Linked DNA regions of Homo sapiens. The protein of the gene in region 1 interacts with the protein of each later gene in a pairwise test. Each region holds a gene or a part of one and is shown in the gene's direction. Other genes may lie near its edges. The genes, in order: EMP1, MS4A7 and ANKS6.

The links.
Region 2: the proteins of EMP1 (region 1) and MS4A7 interact in binary tests that used the Homo sapiens proteins (3 or more experiments, as listed by UniProt).
Region 3: the proteins of EMP1 (region 1) and ANKS6 interact in binary tests that used the Homo sapiens proteins (3 or more experiments, as listed by UniProt).

The regions. Positions count from the first base shown.
Region 1 is NC_000012.12:13,206,691-13,210,442, forward strand, and holds part of EMP1 (epithelial membrane protein 1), read left to right. Parts: intron 1-3,752.
Region 2 is NC_000011.10:60,376,746-60,380,497, forward strand, and holds the start of MS4A7 (membrane-spanning 4-domains subfamily A member 7), read left to right. Parts: upstream 1-1,786; 5' UTR 1,787-1,919; intron 1,920-3,752. UniProt on the Homo sapiens protein: May be involved in signal transduction as a component of a multimeric receptor complex.
Region 3 is NC_000009.12:98,733,955-98,737,706, reverse strand, and holds part of ANKS6 (ankyrin repeat and SAM domain-containing protein 6), read left to right. Parts: intron 1-1,083; coding exon 1,084-1,188; 3' UTR 1,189-3,752.

The DNA.
Region 1 (3,752 bases):
AGGTTAGCAATCAGGGAACCAAATTATGCACCTCTAAACTTCCCTTCTGGTCCTTAGAAGTCAATTCTTCTCAAAGTCTCTGCAGATTTAGTTACCCACCAGAAAAGGAAAGGCTCCCATGGGGGCCTGAGTAATTTCTCACTGGTCAGAGAACCCTAAAAGTGTTAGGCTGCCTGAACAAAGGCAACAAGGCAATGCATGGCAGTCTCAGGGCTGTGTTCCTTTGATTCTTTCATTTGTGTGTGTGTGTGTGTGTGTGTGTGTGTGTGTGTGGTGTGTAAGAGGGAGGCAAGAAGCCAATAAAGATTTAAATGGATGGAGATAACTTGAGAGGTTTGGTTATCCCTCTTTCCCTTCCCTCATGTCTCATATTAGTTAGTCCTTTAGAGCTATAGTCACGAGCAATTTTAATCCTCAGGGTTCTATTTTATTTTATTTTGAGACGGAGTCTTGCTCTGTTGCCCAGGCTGGAGTGCAATGGAGCGATCTTGGCTTTTTGCAACCTCCGCCTCCCTGGTTCAAGTGATTCTCCTGCCTCAGCCTCCCCAGTAGCTGGGACTACAGGTGTGCACCACCACGCCCGGCTAATTTCTTGTATTTTTAATTGATACTAGGTTTCACCACGTTAGCCAGGATGATCTCGAACTCCCTCAGGGTTATTTCTACTGACTATATTAGCTATTCTGTTAGCTAAGAACTTTATCTGAATACTGAATGGTCAGTGTTTGTGAGGTTTGCATTAGAGCTAGGAGCACAAAGACACCTCTGCTCTAGTGTGGTCTGGGCAATGCAGAAAGAAAAGGAGGAACAGTGATCAGAAACAAAAGATGGTGGTCAGAGGTAGGGAACTGCAAGCCTGTCCGTTAGGGCAGAAAGAAGAACAGAAAAGGGATATCAGAGACCTGTGTGTGGCTCCGAGGTGCTGATCTCCATTTCTCTTAATAATACTTCTCTCCAGAGTCAACATACATGGGTCCTATACCTTCCTCAGTTTCCCACCCAGCCCCTAACTGCCCCTGTGCCATGTATGTTAGGTAGATGAGGCTTAAGAAGGAGATCATCCTCCACTCACAGTGGTGGGTACAGAAATGTGTTCCTGGCATCCACATAGAAGTCAGTGGACGGCCTGTTCTTTAAAAATGCAATGAATTGATAAGCTCTGCTGGCCTAGGTCTGGGAGTCTAAGCACCACAAATGAACGCTGTTATGAGCGTTCCCCTACAACTTTGGAACTGCTCAGTGCACCAAATGCTCTGCAAAAAGCGGGTCTTGCTTCAAAGTATTCAGAATTGCAATGCTGTGATTCTCTGCATCTTGGTTTGCGCTGCCTCACTAGGACTAGGGGTATGCTTTCCACTGGAGAGTGCCACCCATATCATTTTAGAGAGGGCTGAGGGAGAAGTCTACTATTGTTTTAGTGAAACACACTGCTAAGAAATAAGTAGTAGCCACCAATACTTCCAATGGTATAAATTCTCATAAATGGTATTTTTTTCAGTGCCTTTGTATGAAGCAAGATTCACAATGGGGCAGAGAATGAATCTCCCCACAAGCTACCTTGCAAGTAATGGGTGGGTGGAAGTTTCAGGAGCAGGGGTTCTTCTGTTTATTATACTCTGCTATTTGATAAATGCCCAGACATTTACCCATTAGTTACCACTAATGGCTTTTTCATAAAGACCTCAGTGATCGCCTCCTCCCAGACTGAGGGTTTCCCTGGGGGCAGGAGGTATCTAGCACAGTGTAAAGACTGGGTAACTAGGGATGATTCAGCCCAGAAACTCAAGAAGATAACTCATTCTGTTTTCACCTGTGTTGGGGGGAAGGCCATTGAAAATAATGGAAGCCCCTCTAAACTGACAGTGAATGATATTAGTAAAACCTGACAAATAATGGGCCAGTGAAAAGATGGAGAAGTTGTAGCTTAAGCTAAACAGCCCCTCCTTCTGGCTGGATACAGCAGCTAAAAACAGAGAGAACTGTGTGTTTTGCACAAGACCGCTTGCTAACTCAAGACATTTTGCTTCTTTCCGTGGTGAAAAGACAGGGAGGGCACCATCACAAAAATCTAAGATGAAAGAGAGTCGCTCTTTTGCTTGATTCTCACATCCATTCTTCCAGCCTGCAATGGGCAGGGCATATGGTCAGGTGGATCCAGGGGCCAGGCACTCGCACACACCACCAGGGCTGTGATGCATGGGCCCAGGTAGAGGTGCCGTGGGAGGGGTCATTGAGACAGAGAGTGTGAGCTGGGCAGAGGAAATCAGACTTGACTTTAGGGGTTACAGAGCAACCCAAGGAGACAAAATGCTGCTGAATTCCCAACAGCCTATCAGGGAGGGAATGTTTTCTGTGACTCATTTAAGTGGCCTCACTTGGTGGATTATATTCTGTCATTGGCCCCTCCAGCCCTTCCCCCTTTTAAGAAGAGGATGTTTGTAAATTAGAAGCAACAGGAACAAGAAAGTCATTTGAAGAGCCCGAGGAGGATTAAACATAAGTATTCGTTATGTAATATTTGTAATTCCCTGCAATCAGCCTGTTCCTTTCCCCATAGGGGGCAAGGAGATCAGGATCTGGTGAGGTGTGAATCTTGGGAGGTATGAGGAAGTTGGGCTGAGAAAGTGAACTTTCTCCTGGTCTTTCCTGAGGGTGTGCTCTTAGAGGTCTCCCCCCTTAAGGGGCAAGGGTTAGACAAATGACAATTTCTAAGAGGACCGAAAGGATTGTATACACCCTGCCTCGTGAACTAGACAGCAGATATCTTATTACTTGCACTTAACATGGGGCAGCCTAGCGATTGAGTAACTGGGTTGGGTTGGCAACAGCTACCCGGCTTCACTTATGAATAATAGTAATAATAATAACCGCAGCTAAAGCAACCCCATTATTAGTAGCTGCCATGTGTCAGACACTAGGTGTTTTACATAAACAATCTGAATTCATCCTCACATTTCCCTTTGCAATTGACATTGCGACTTCCACTTTCTAAATGAGGAAACAGATGAGCGGTCAAATAACTGGATATGATTCTAATTCATCCTCTGTCTGATTCAAAAATCTCTTTTTACTGTGCATTTAAGTCAAGCAGAAAATTGGGGAGGTGTGCTAGAACCTGAGAAAAGCAAAAATGAATTTGAATGTGTGGGGGGATTACTAATAGCAGACATGAAAGCTCCAACCTCTCCCCTGAAGAGGCAGGATAAACGTCATAATTTTTGCATTCACAGTTAAGTTGGACACATTCCTAAAAAACAGCCTGGGTTGGAAGGAAGTGGCCAGATTGGGAAGGGGCTGTTGGAGACGGTCAGGGAGAATGGTGGAAGCCATTGTCTGCCTCTCATTCCTTGCTTGCAGAGAGCAAGGCACCCTGATGTATATTAGATCACTCTAGATTTTTGGTTGCCTGATAAAGACAGTGAGAGGAGATAAAAGGCATGTGAAGTGTTGGAATTATAGTATCAGTGCTCTCTAATAAATACCTGATGTGGCATGAAAGTGCCTCAAGCACATTCAAAGCATCAATTAAATTAGGTGGAGTGAGAGAGGGCAGTGGAACAATTGCAGGATGCGCCTGGCCATCTCCTCCCTTGGTTGGGGCATCCACACATCCATTCTGTCTAGGGTGTGAATAACCTCAAGCCCTTTCCTTTTGATGTCCCTCTGAGCCTGCACTGCTTTGTGACAGTCTTAGGCATGACAAAGCTCTCCTTCTGTAGCTGACATAAATCAGAATAGCCTCCCCCATGTGT
Region 2 (3,752 bases), on another chromosome or scaffold:
ACTGTGAGTCACTTGCCTGTCTAGAGCACCAGGACTGTTTGCAAAGGGCTGAGGAGATTTCCATCAATGGAAAAGAGCATGAATTTAGAGTAAACATAGATTACACTTAGAGATCAGAGATCAATCTAGAGATAAAATACACTTTTCTCTAAAGGGGGTGGGAGAAGATGTTGGACAAGAAATACCAGATTTTCTTAATGGTTCATTTATGTCAGGCTCTATGGTGGGGACTTTTATGTTATTTGACTTAATCCTCACAACAATTCTGAAAAATCTTTTTTCAAATTTTATGAGAAAGTGAACTGGATATTTAACTGATTTTCTCACGAATTCCTTCTGAGGCTCAGAAGTGTGAAAGAAGCCCAAATGACCAAGGTTCTTTAACAATTTGGTCAAAACAGGTCATAGACCCAGAGGAAGGTCTGGATCCTGGAAGTTTTCTTAAGCAAAGACAGTGCTTGTTGTGGATATGAAGATGTTGACTAAGCTGGGCACAGTGGCTCACACCTGTAATCCCAGCTTTGGGAGGCCAAGGCAGGTGGATCACCTGAGATCAGGAGTTCGAGACCAGCCTGACCAACATGGTGAAATCCTGTCTCTAGTAAAAATACAAAAATTAGACAGGCATGGTGGTGGGCACCCATAGTCCCAGCTACTGGGGAGGCTGAGGCAGGAGAATCACTTGAACCTGGGAGGTGGAGGTTACAGTGAGCTGAGACTGCACCATTGCACTCCAGCCTGAGCAACAAGAGCAAAAAACTCCATCTCAAAAAAAAAAAAAGATGTTGACCAAATGGCAGACTCTTGCCATGAAGCAAGCCCAGACCTCAGTGCCAAGAGATGTGAATTAGATTCCTGCCTCTTCCACAGACTAGACATGTGACTGGGGGCAGATTCCTTCAGCAATATCACCTCATTTGGAGAAGAACTGGACTAAAATACCCTCCAAGTAGTTTATGAGTTATTTAAATCTCCCAGGCTTAGGTTTGCTCCTCTCTTAGGGGATAGCCTTGCCACCCTTCAGGAAATGGAGACTGTATATGGAGCATGTTGTGCCGCCAGCTGCTGCATGTCCCAGAGCCATCTTAAACCCTACCCTTCTGAACAATGGCTAGTCTACAAGAAGCCTTAAAAGGGATGTGAAAGTGGCAACAGTGTCCCCTCAACAACAAATACTTCCCCAAATATGAGCTTGTGTGGAGCCTGATGACTCTGCCTCTGAGGCCAATCCACTGGCATCTTTCCCAAGATGTGCCTGGACTTCCCTGAGCATGAGGCCAAAGATGGAGAATGGAAACACCCAAAAGAAGTAACAAGGAGACACGGAATTTTCCACAGGTTGCTTTCAGCTTACCAAGAGCCTGGAAAGTGAGAGAATAGATTCTCCAAAATTCAAAACTAACATTACTATTATCAATATTTATTGTCTACTTTTTGTAAACTCTTTGCATCTTTTTTCTTTAATTCTCCCAACACCCACAGAGTGGAATTATTATTATCCATCCACCATTTATTTAATAGACAAGAAAACTCAGGCTAAGCAAAACTAGATGACTTAAATAATTCTATGTAGGAGTAGGGAAAATGAATTTTAACTGGGACCGTACAAATCACTAGTCTGCACAAAGGTCTTTTTCTCATGTGTCACTTCTATCTTGTGTCATTTTGCCAGACCTCAGAATTTAGAAAGAGGAAGCAGAGGCACTTTTTATATATCAACTGTCTGTAACTACAGCAAAATTCACATCCTGTGTAATCATAAATACTGCTCTAAGAAAGGGACAGGAAGTCTCAGAGGCTGGAGAGCAGAGCACCAAGATCGTTCTGGCAGGAACAGCCAGTGGGAGGTTCCAGCTGAGCGCTCCCCAGAGGTGAGCTGATCCCCAGCCACAGCACACAGGACCAGGCTGCGAGAACAGGTAGACACCTTGGTTTAGATCATGACTTTTGGGGAAGATTGTGTGCTTTTGAAAAGACAGCCAGGGAATTGGATTATCATCCTGTCTCTGATTCTGACCACCTGTGTGAGTTGGAGCGTCAGCTCAGTCCCCTTTTTGGGTCTCAGTTTACTCACTTGTCAAATAAGAAAATTGGGTAAAACCATTCTTAGGTTTCCCTCATTGAGGTGATTTTCCTCAATGTTCTGCATTCTCCTGGTGTGTCACTCAGTCTTACAGAGTCTACTCTCAACAAATACTGTGCAATTAGACTGAATCTTGCATTAGAACCCCATGGTCCTACTCTAATTCTGTAATACAGAAAATTGCTGGGCAGAGCTGTTGACCTCCATGTCATGATTTATCTTCAAAGCACGGATTTTAGAGCTGTCTTGAAAGCTGTGGGTCCCTCCAGTCTATCTCCTCAAGGCGAATGTGGAAGGACAAAGCATCCTCTCAGACTGTGGTGTTTGGAGATGATAGCATCAGTCTGGAGACTTTTGTGAAACATAAAGAATCTTGGTTATATAGGATTCCTTCTAAAAGTAGCAACGTGTATCTAAATTCAAGTGTCATAGATTTAAATGTAATAATTCCACTTCCATACATCACTGTGAGATAATTAAATGCAGGAGGTATCACAAAAGTGCAAAGATGTTCATTATTGCATTGTTCATAGTGGCAAAAAGAAAAAATAGAAACCACCTAAATAGTCATGAACATGTGATTGATTAAATGAATCTAGAGACCTCCATTTATTTAAATATACCATTTGGCTTTTTGGTTGTAGTAAAATATGCTTAAAATAATTGTAGCCTTTTAACCATGTGTTTTTTTGTTGTTTTTTGTTTGTTTGTTTGTTTGTTTTTTAATTGAGAAAGAGTTTTGCTCAGTCACCCAGGCTAGAGTGCGTGATCTCGGCTTACTGCAACCACTGTCTTCCAGGTTCAAGCGATTCTCCCATCTCAGCCTCCTGAGTAGCTGGGATTACAGGCACTCACCATCATGCCTGGCTAATTTTTGTATTTTTTTAGTAGAGACGGGGTTTCACCATGTTGGCCACGCTGGTCTTGAATTCCTGACCTCAGGTGATCTGCCCGCCTCGGCCTCCCAAAGTGCTAGGATTACAGGCATGAGCCGCTGCACCCAGCCTTAACCATTTTTAGGTGTACAGTTCAGTGGCATTAAGCACATTCACACCATTGTGCAACCATCACCACCACCCAACTCCAGAACTTTCTTGTCTTCCCAAACTGGAACTCCGTGCCCATTAAACAATAGCTTTCCATTCCCCTCTCCCGCCAGCCCCTGGCAACCACCATTCTACTTTCAGTGAATTTGACTCTTCTAGGTGCCTCACATAAGTAGAATCATACAATATTTGTCCTTTTGTGACTGGATTATTTCACTTGCCATATTGTCTTCAAGGTTCATCCATGTTGTGCCATGTATCAGAATCTATCATTTGCTTTTAAATTTAGGCTTTTTATTATTTCTATTCATCGGTCAAAGATGTCTACAGAATAATGTTGAGTACAAAAAGAACAGTTATAAAATGGCATGGATAGAATGACTATTTCCGTAGAATTGTGAATGTCTGTGAACATATATAAAGAGGAGAGAGATAAAGTGACAGATGGGAAGAGAGAATGTAAAGAATATGTGCATAGGAAACAAGAGTGATCGGGTGGCAGTTGAAAGTTAAGGAGCTAATTTGTTTTCTTCTTCAAACTGTATTCCCTTGTAATGGTGGTACTTTATGCACTCTTTCAAACAGAACAAACAGTTAAGAAATAACAAAGGAAAATAAATGTT
Region 3 (3,752 bases), on another chromosome or scaffold:
GATGGTGATATTTTTATGGGAATTGCATTGAATTTGTAGATTGCTTTTGACAATATGGGCATTTTCACAATATTGATTCTCTCCATCCATGAGCATGGGATGTGTTTCCACTTGTTTGTGTCATCTATGATTTATTTCAGCAGTGTTTTCTAGTTTTCCTTGTAGAGGTCTTTCACCTCCTTGGTTAGGTATATTCCTAAGTATTTTTTTTTTTTATTTTTTTGCAGCTATTATAGAAGTGGTTGAGTTCTTGATTCGATTCTCAGCTTGGTCACTGTTGTTGTATAGAAGAGCTACTGATTTGTGTACGTTAATCTTGTATCCAGAAACTTTGCTGAATTCTTTTATCAGTTCTAGGAGCTTTCTGGAGCTGTCTTTAGGGTTTTCTAGGTAAACGATCATGTCATCAGCAAACAGCGACAGTTTGACTTCCTGTCTGATTGCTCTGGCTAGGACGCAGTCTCTGTTCTTAACCTCTGAGTATTGCTGCCTCCGAGCCTGGAATGCAGTGATGATGTTTTCTGGGCTTAACAGAACATTCACATCCACCCTCTTTTCTCATCTGAAAATGTGTGTATAGGGGGCAGGGGGCGTTGTAGGAATAGAGTGAGAAGTGAATCTCTGTGAAGACAAATCCGGCAGCTTTTGGGCAAAGGGAAGCAAAGGCAGTTTAAACTCTTATCCTGTAGCAGAAGGACACTTGGCTCCCATTGAATTATCTGGAAATCTAAGGACTGGAAAGATGCACAGAGGCGCAGGAAAGGAGACCTCGAATCCGGGCCGTGCGACTCGGGAGAAGTCAGTCCTGCCCCGGACTCGGCCTCCCACTCTGTCCAGGGGTTTGGGGTCCTGCATCCCAGGGCCTCTCCAGCATTGACAGGCTGCGATGGTGGGTACTGGGGAGATTCTGACTCAGTATGTTTTTATTGAACTCGGTACTCTTTCAGTTAGGTAATTTATTTTCCCCAAGACGCCCATGGGTTTTTGAAGTATGAGTTGAACATTAACAACACTGTGTCAATTGAATTAATGGTTAAAAGGTTTAATAAGACTTTCTGTGTCTGTTTTCAATTTCCTCCACAGGGACGCGAGAGACAAATTTTACAGGAAACCATTCACAACTTTCACTCTTCCTTTGAGAGCAGTGCCAGCAACACCAGGGCCCCTGGCAACAGCCCCTGTGCGTGATCCTCCTTCCCGCAGCCACCAGCGTGAGCTCTCTGAATCCCGGGACCCCTTCACGTGGCCACAGCCCCAGCCCTGCCCCCGTCACACTGCTGTGCCTTAGTCATGTTGTTCCCTTTGCTCGGGATGCCCACTTCACGTCGACGGCATTCATTGGTAGTACTTCTTGCTGCAACAAACTTCAACACACAGAGACAGATTCCCATGTAACAGTCCAGTGGGGGTGCTTCTGCTTGGCAGGTTGGTTCACACAGTGATGCAGGGACTCAGCTCCTTTCATCCTGTGCTCTGCCCTCCCCGGGAGCCTCAGAGTTTGCTTCTGGCTGGCGGCAAGGGAAAGGGACGATGGAGAAGGCACGGCTGCTTCTTACCTGCCTTGCTCTTAACTGACACACATCACTCCTGCTCACGTCCTCTTGGCCACTGGTAGTCATGTGGCCCCACCTGGATGCAGAGGAGGCCAGGATGTGCAGTCTCCACATAGTGGCTTCCCAGCAACAACTTTTGACTTAGATGGGGGGTATGTATTATGGTGAGAGGTTAGCCTTCCTGGCACATCTTCCCTTAAAACTTCTAACTTGCCCCTCCTAGTCCAAGTCACCTCTCAGATGAAGTCTTTTTTGACCCCCTTTCAGCCACTGGGTCCCTTAGTGCTGTGTATGTGACTGCTGTAGCATTCCACTGCACCTGCTGCATACAGCTTACATTGGAGATGTGTATGTCAAACGCATTTTTCTTTATTGCAAAGAGAGTCTATTATAGAAGGAAAGAAGTGGAGGCCTGCTGTGTGGATCCCTTCTTCTTCCTAGCTTTCAGTTTCCTTATCTGCAAAGTGGAAGGTCAGACCAGATGATGCTCTGGTACTCCACAGTGCTCACCTGTATCACTGCAGGGCTTTCTGCACTGAAAGTGGAAGCAGAAGGCTAATGGGTCACATTGTGTAAAGGTCTCTGGTGCTCAAAGTTTCTAGGCAAAGAAGTGAAAATTTGGAATTTTGTCTACATCCTATTAATGCTGTGTTCCTCAAAAGGGAATTGGCTTGTGTAGTTTCCTACCATATCATATTTTATTAAATTAGAGGGGCCCTGACTTTTAAAACCCACTGGCTTTCTGAAGTGTTTTCCAGTGAATGACTCATTCAGCCAGTGCTTGTTGCATTTATGTTAGCTACCAGGTGCCAAGTGTGCAGACACAATACAGAGCCTTCAGGCTCTCGACAGGCAAGAGAACACCTGTAAATAGATGGTCCCGACATTGAGAGGCAGCATGGTAGAGTGGGCAGACCTTGTGCTCTGGACTCAGGTTCAAAGTTCAGATGAAGCTCAATGGCCTCTTAGTTGGAGCTTAGAACCAGTATGCCCAAAGTGCTGGGTCTGCAGGAAGTACCCAGTCGATGGTAGGCTGCACAGAATTCTGATCTCTACCTTGAGCCATGCTGAGCCACAAGTTGGTCTCCTTGGGAGGTGCCATCTCTCATCTGTCCCTCCCCCAGCCATGAAAGCCCATTCCCCTATGCTGGCTTTCAGAGGCTGTCGTTAACTTACTGCCCAGAGCCTCGTAGTTTTCTTCCCCTGCCCTGATGGTTGGGTGTTTTTCCTTTAAATTCTCTCAGCCTTACACTCACAGAAGCCAACTTTCCACAGGACTGAAGACAAAGTGTTTCATTTAGCTGTTACTGATAGACACCTTTACAAAGGTTACTAATGTCCCAGCCTTTTTAAGGAGACACACTCATTCATCCCCTACTATGTGCTGGCAGCTTTACCTTTGTCATTTCATCCTCATGGCCACCCTGGAGGTGGCATTGTGTAACCTCATCTTGCACATTCGGGAAACGGATGCTTAGGAGAGGGAAGCAGCTTGCCAGTTAAACAGCCCAGAAGGAGCAGATCTGGGGTCAGAACCGGACCTGGTGGGCTTGCAAGCCTGTGCCTTTTCCACTAACTCCTATAGACTCCTGGAGCTAGAAGCACTTGTGATTCTTGTTTTAATTTACTGATGGCTTCAGGGGTTAACAGTAGGCCTAGAATTGTTTGCCTCTGAAATTCATGGCCCCTGACGTTATGTGCTTTGAGGTTTTGTGCCTGCTTTTTGCTGTGGTCCTGTTTTTTTCATAACAATATACTGGTATAGCTTCCACTCAGGTAAGTTTGATTGAACAATGATACACAGCTGCACCGGGGGGTCACCTTTTCACAAATGTAGACCTCCATGAACTCATTGGATGACCCTGGACAGAGCGGGGCTATTCCCATTTTGCAGACAGGACAGCAGAGGCTCCAGACAATGCCTTTCCTTTCTTTTTCACTGGACTCAAGTGTCCAAGGCTTTTCATCCTAGGAAGTTTGTGTGCTGGTTCACAAGAGGTCCCTGGCACCCTTTCTGGGGATGTTTGGATGCGGCTGGTAGGCAGGGAAGAGAAAGGGCACCCCAGCGGGGGCATGTGTGGAGGCAGCACGGAACATGTAGGTTATAGATCGTCAGGGAGGAGGGGTCAGTTGGGTGCTTGTTTTTCTGATTTTTGGTCCTTGATCACCCCCTTCCCTTCCCACACGTGTCCCCAGCCT